Linked DNA regions of Homo sapiens: region 1 is linked to region 2. A link means that fine-mapping ties the variant in region 2 to the expression of a gene that starts in the linked region. Tissue or cell type: lung. Region 2 holds a variant in brackets; the other region holds the start of a gene. All regions are shown on one strand. Distances are between the middles of the regions.

Evidence for each region. PIP is the estimated chance that this variant, and not a neighbour inherited with it, causes the effect.
Region 1: it holds the start of LETR1, and the variant in region 2 is fine-mapped to the expression of LETR1 in lung (TOPMed, PIP above 0.99). The same link has a PIP of 0.9 or more in coronary artery, ovary, thyroid, tibial artery and tibial nerve.

The regions. Positions count from the first base shown.
Region 1 is chr15:95,325,803-95,328,725 of GRCh38, reverse strand. LETR1 (lymphatic endothelial transcriptional regulator lncRNA 1) reads left to right here and starts at 1,626. Exons shown (of 4, transcript NR_034095.1): 1 at 1,626-1,896.
Region 2 is chr15:95,254,498-95,257,420 of GRCh38, reverse strand. No RefSeq gene overlaps it. Among named protein-coding and RNA genes, the nearest start is that of LETR1, 71 kb to the left of the region's middle. The variant G/T (reference allele first, on the strand shown) is at 1,532.

The DNA of each region.
Region 1 (2,923 bases), 71 kb before region 2:
TGTAAGTTAGCTTGAAAATGATTGTAAAAAAACTACGAAAATGTTCCTAATGTATGGCCCATTTATTCCACTTCAATAAATTTCTTTGAAATTAATAATTTAAAACATGGAAATGTTGCCTCAAGATGTTCCTTACTGTGTTATTTACTCTAGTGAAATCCAAAAGCAACCTAAATATCCAACATCAGGAAAATAGTTGAGCAAACCATATATACAATTAATGAAAGATTATGCAGTTATTAAAATTGGTTAATATGGATATTCTCTAATAATATTAAAAAGTCCCTTCGACATAATGCTGTGTGAATCACTACATAATCCCACAATTCAAATGTACTCTTTTATAAGTATGTAAGCATACATATAAACAATTCTAGTAAGAAGCATGCATACATTTAATTTACATGGGCATTTTTTTGGTATATGCTGTCCCTGTTAGCCTGATGGGATTATTATGTTTCCTTTTCCCATTTCTTTTTTCTAAAGTTACTGTTCTGTTCATATGGTATTTGAAAGAGAAACACTTGTACTTAAGCTCTCTCTTTCCACCCACTCGCTTTTCAATCAGTTATATAAAATATACCTTGGTGATATGTTTCCATCTCATTTATTACTATTTTAAACATGGCTTTCACTTTCTTCGTGGTGGTAGTGGACATGGCAGAGGAAGATGGTGTAATTCAAAAGCACAATTAAGCAGAAAATCATTTTCCTCCTAGAAAAAAAAATCTGGTTTTTTCTAAACTATTTTACTCTCAGAAGTAAATGAATCAGCACCTGCAGGACTGACTGCCTCCTCGACAGGAGATGCTTTACCTTCAGCGTGGCGGTTTGCGCAGGAGGAATGCTTGCAGTGAATGGACCTGTCTGTCTTTCAGTCGCCAAAGAAGAGCCCGGATGACACAATAGCTCTCTATCAGCCCCATTTCTATGGTGGTTCACGACTTATTCTCTCCTGCTAACCGTCTGCCTGCTTCGACCCTCACTCTCAACCTAACCAGTGTTAAAAAGGACACTTCTTAAATAGAATTGCCTAAAACAATGCACCGTCATCCTTTTGCAAGGGCAAACAAAACATATTCAAATTGCTCATGACTTTTAAACAAGTAAAAGCTAGATAAATTATGAAAATGTTGCATATCCTAATGTGCTATATATATATATATAGATATATATATATATATCGGGCACATCCTTCTATTTTTTTCTTTTTCGAAAAAAAAGTTTACTAGCGTTTACTAGCCAATTATCTTATATTTTTAGCCTGTGTAGAATATCTAAAGTGTATTGTCCACGCCCCTCCTTTTTAACCCATTTTCAATGGGTTTAATATTGCCCGAGATAAGGGGATGCAACTGTTCAGGTCTGATTTCCTGTTGTTTCTCAGATACTGATAGGGCATCATTCACATACATGACAAATAAGACTTCTGAACTGTTTGCCATTTGGGAAGGGGAGGCTCGCGGGTTGTTCCCTGGCGAAATGATTTGTGAAACATCAGTCCGAAATTATTCGGGGGTTCTTCGCCCTCCACTTTCCCATAGCGCGTTTTCCTTTCTCCCACAGAGATATAATAGAAACTAATCTTCAAAATCCAAACATTCCAAGCCCCATCCTTTTGTGCAGGCATCTCGCTGTCTGCGCTGGGCACGGAGCGGCGCGCGCGCGCCCGTCTTTCCCTCGGCGGCCCCCGCGGCTCGGACCCGGGCCGGCAGACAGGCCATCCATCATCCGCCCTCCTCCCGCGGAGCGCCGCAGCCGCCGCGGCCAATCCGGCGGCAGGTGGGGCCGCACCTGCGCGACAGCCCGCCGCTTCCCTCCGCTCCCTTCGCCGCGCCTCGCGTGCTAGCGGTGCCCTTGTGAGCCACTGCGTTCTCCAAGGCCAGAACGGGACAGGTACGCTCGGGTGACAGGGACCGTACGTGCGCTGAGCCCGCGGCTGGCAGCCAGGGGGGCGGCTGGAACGTGGGAGGACACGCTGTCCCTTAATACACACGCGTGCTTTGGATGGGTGTGTCATCTATTTGTGGACATACGGGCCCTCACTGGGTTTAGCCTCTTAAAAAGTTGAAGAATTAAGATGCTTACCTTTGGAAGGGAAGTGTAACTGAGAACACGTTTTAGTGATAGAATGTGTTGCCTCTGGTCTGTTTCTTGGGTGAACCCATGGTGCAGTTTCCAAGCCACGTCTGAATTCCGCATGCCCCCTACATACTTCAGGCAGTATTCCCCTAAGGCCTAAGTGAGAAATACTGACTCAATACTAAAGATTAAATAGTATCCATAGGATACAAAAATTACCCCAAACAAAAACCTAACCTAGACCTCAAGGACCATGAAAAGACTGTAACAACTTAAAGAAAAAATAGGACCTCAAACTACAGAGAAGCTTTCATTTTCCAAATAGGCAAATTATTTGTAGTGCAATCCGCTTGTTTTTGTGGGGGCTAAAGCGGGTGTAGAGTTGCTTGGCTATTCTGTGGAGGCAGCTAGATAAGTCCTGCTAACATGTTATGGATTTTGTAAGCGGGCTCAATAACTCCCTTTGGTTTAAAAGGTCCAAAACATGTATTTTATCATGTAATTTGAGAACAAATGAGAACAAGCAGAATGCCTGCCTCCCCCGATATGTTCCAGGAGTGTGTCTATGTAGATGTCAATTACGTAAGTGCAAGGCCTTGGAAAACAACAGCCCTGCAGGTGGCTTCAAGGCTTCAAGATTTTTCAGAAAAGCATATTTCTTTTATTTTCTTTAAGAAAAATACAAAATAAAAATAACAGCAACCACAGCCGCAAGCATTACCCTCCAACCTCCTGCCCCTGTCTTGCTTCTGAGTCATAAATCATGAAAAAGAGAGAGACAATGACTCCAGTTTTCCTGCCTTTAACAACTGGAACTGCTAATGCCAAAAAGGAAGAGAAA
Region 2 (2,923 bases):
TCTTTGTGCTATTCTGCTTTGGGAAGAAATATTAAAGTGCTGGGAAAATAAAAAATGGCAGTAACAAAAAAATAGAATTTTATGGTCTGAGTGATCATCAGAAGCACTGTTAGATGCTGCGTCCATCTTTTCGTTGATGGTACATTTTGGTGCTTAAAATAAATGCCATTTCTGTAATTAACGAATAGGGCTAGTGAGGTATAAATTCGTCTTGGCAGGTTTGAACTCAGTGCTGTTGTGCAGTTGTATGAACAAGGAAATTAAATGTGAAAAATGGCCAATCTGTCTATCCTCTGGGTTCCCTCAACAACGCGGCCTCATGAAGTACCTGCTGCCATATTGACCTCAGTACACACACAGAAGAGCCAAGGGAATTGCTTCTTTGGGGACTGGAGGTGAATTTTTAGATTTGGCATAATCTACATATTATTTTTTCAAATGAAAATGTCGATAAGTTTAAGCCTCCATATCAACGTGGAAAAAGAATTTGTCCCTTAAGATAAATGGTAGCAATAAGATACTCAGATTATCTTCTCATTAAATGTTATTATGATTGACATCTTTGTTTTCACAAATGTTCTTTAAAAATGTTATACTAAGGATGAAGTACACATAATTTTATCTATTATTCCTTCTATGTACAGATAAGACTCTGAGAATTTATAGAAACAAACATTAGAAGGCAGGAATGTGGAGAGAAGAAAGCTACCTGACAAGGGAATCTCAGGATACAAGGAAAACACCAAGGTGAGTTTCCTGACTTTTAGCTTTGCCTGATATATCTCAGACCTAGAGTTCAAGGAACCAAGAACCCCAAAATAATAATGGGAAAGGACAAGAAAAGCCCCAGCGAAAGACTACTCTGTCTCTAGCCAAAGGACAAGGAAAGGGGCAACCAAGCAAGACAGAAAAACATTTAGATAATAACCACTCTATTCTAGCCAAATTCCACAAAAACTAATTAGATGGTGTCAGAGGAGGCTGAGTAGGAAGGAGGGACTTTACCCCTGCCCCCTAATCCTGTGATATCAGTGGAAGCCATGTGGAGAGCAGCAGCAAGGCACTTCCATCCCTCACATGTTGGGAAGTATAGTGGACCCTCGAACAACACAGGTTTGAACATCACAGGTCCACCTAGGTGCAGATTTTGTTAAACAAAAATGTAGCAACTTCCTAGCATGTTCAGATACTCTTCTAGGTACTTGGAAGACAATAGTAAAGAAAAACAGCCAAAGCCCCTGCTGTCCTGAAAGATGCAGGCAATGGAAGAGGTATTAGTTTAGGGACCCACACAAATAAGTAAATTTGCATATATGCTAAGGGTCATAAAGGGGTGGCATGTGAGCATGTGAGAATATAGAATAGACACATCTGCTTGGCTAAGGGCAGTCAGAAAACACTTTCTTCAGAAATGAATGATTTATTTAAAATCTTCATAATTAATTAGGCAGAGTAGGCCAAAAGTTATCTAAGTACAGAGAATGTACCTGTGCAGTTTATTTTATTGACTTGAAAATTAATTTCCTTCATA[G/T]GAATGTAAATCTCTGTTTACCACAAGCCCTCTGTCTCCACAAGTTCTGTGTCCAGAACTGAAGGCAGATCCAAATACAATATTCATGGGATGCAAATTCCCATGTATGCCAAGAGATAACTGCTTTATTGGAGGCCTAGTGGGGAACTGAAACTCCCACTCCTGCTTAGCAGGAATGAGAAGCCCCCTTTCAGAGGTCAACAGAAGCTGAGTTAAGAAACCTGAACTTTTACCCTACCTGGCAGTAATGAAGCGACACCCACCTTCGTCTGTGAGGATGGTGTGAGATGAAGGTAGCTAAAACAAAAGGTTTAAATAAGATTCAGAGTCTCATCATATTGAAATGTCCATATTTCAGTGGAAAATTACTCATCATACAAAAACAAGAAAGAACTAAAACTAAGTGAGAAAAGATAATAAATATATGCCAACATCAAGATGACACAAATGTTAGAATTATCTGGCAAAGCTTGTAAAGCAGCCATCATAAAAATACTCCAATGAACAATTAAAACATTCTTGTAGCTAATGAAAATTTATTTGGAAAGCTTCAACAAAGAAATAGGAAGTCATAACCAAAAATAGAAGATAAAAGAGTCAAATGGAAAATTTTGAACTGAAGAATACAATAACCAATATAAAAAACTCAATGCATGGGCAGAATGGAGGAGACAGAGGAAATATTGGTGAACTGGAGGAAACAATATAAATTGACCATCTATACAACAGAGAGAAGATAGAGTGAAAAAAAGATGAAAGGAACCTCAAAGACCTTCGAGATTATAGCAAAAAAAACCAAAATAAAACAAAACCAAAAACCAACAAACAGACAGACAAAAAATTAACCTTTGCATTCCCTGAGTCCTAGAAGACCGGAAGATGGCAGACCTGAAAAACATTCTAAGAAATAATGGCTGAAATGTGTTTAAATTTAGCCAAAGACATAAATATACAGATTTAAGAAACTGAGTGAATCCCAAATAGGATAAACTCACAGAAATTCATAGCAAGACACTCATAGTCAAACTTTTGAGAACTGAAGACAAAAAAGAAAAACAAAAAGTCAATCCAGATGTCCTTCAAGGGGAAGATGATTAAACCAACCGTGATACATGCATGCTAATAGAAAAAAAACTACTGATGCCTGGAACCACCTGGATGAATCTCTAAAGAATTATGGAGAGTGACAAAAATAATTTTAAAATGTTACATAGTATATTGTTTTATTTATATAACAACATGATTGAAATAACAAGATCATAGAAATGGAGACTCATTAGGGGTTAAGGAGGGGGAAGGATAAGAAGGAAGAGGGAGTGGCCATAAAAGGCAGCACGAAGTATCCCTGTGCCGATAGAAATATTTCTTATCTTGACAGTAGCAATGTCAATA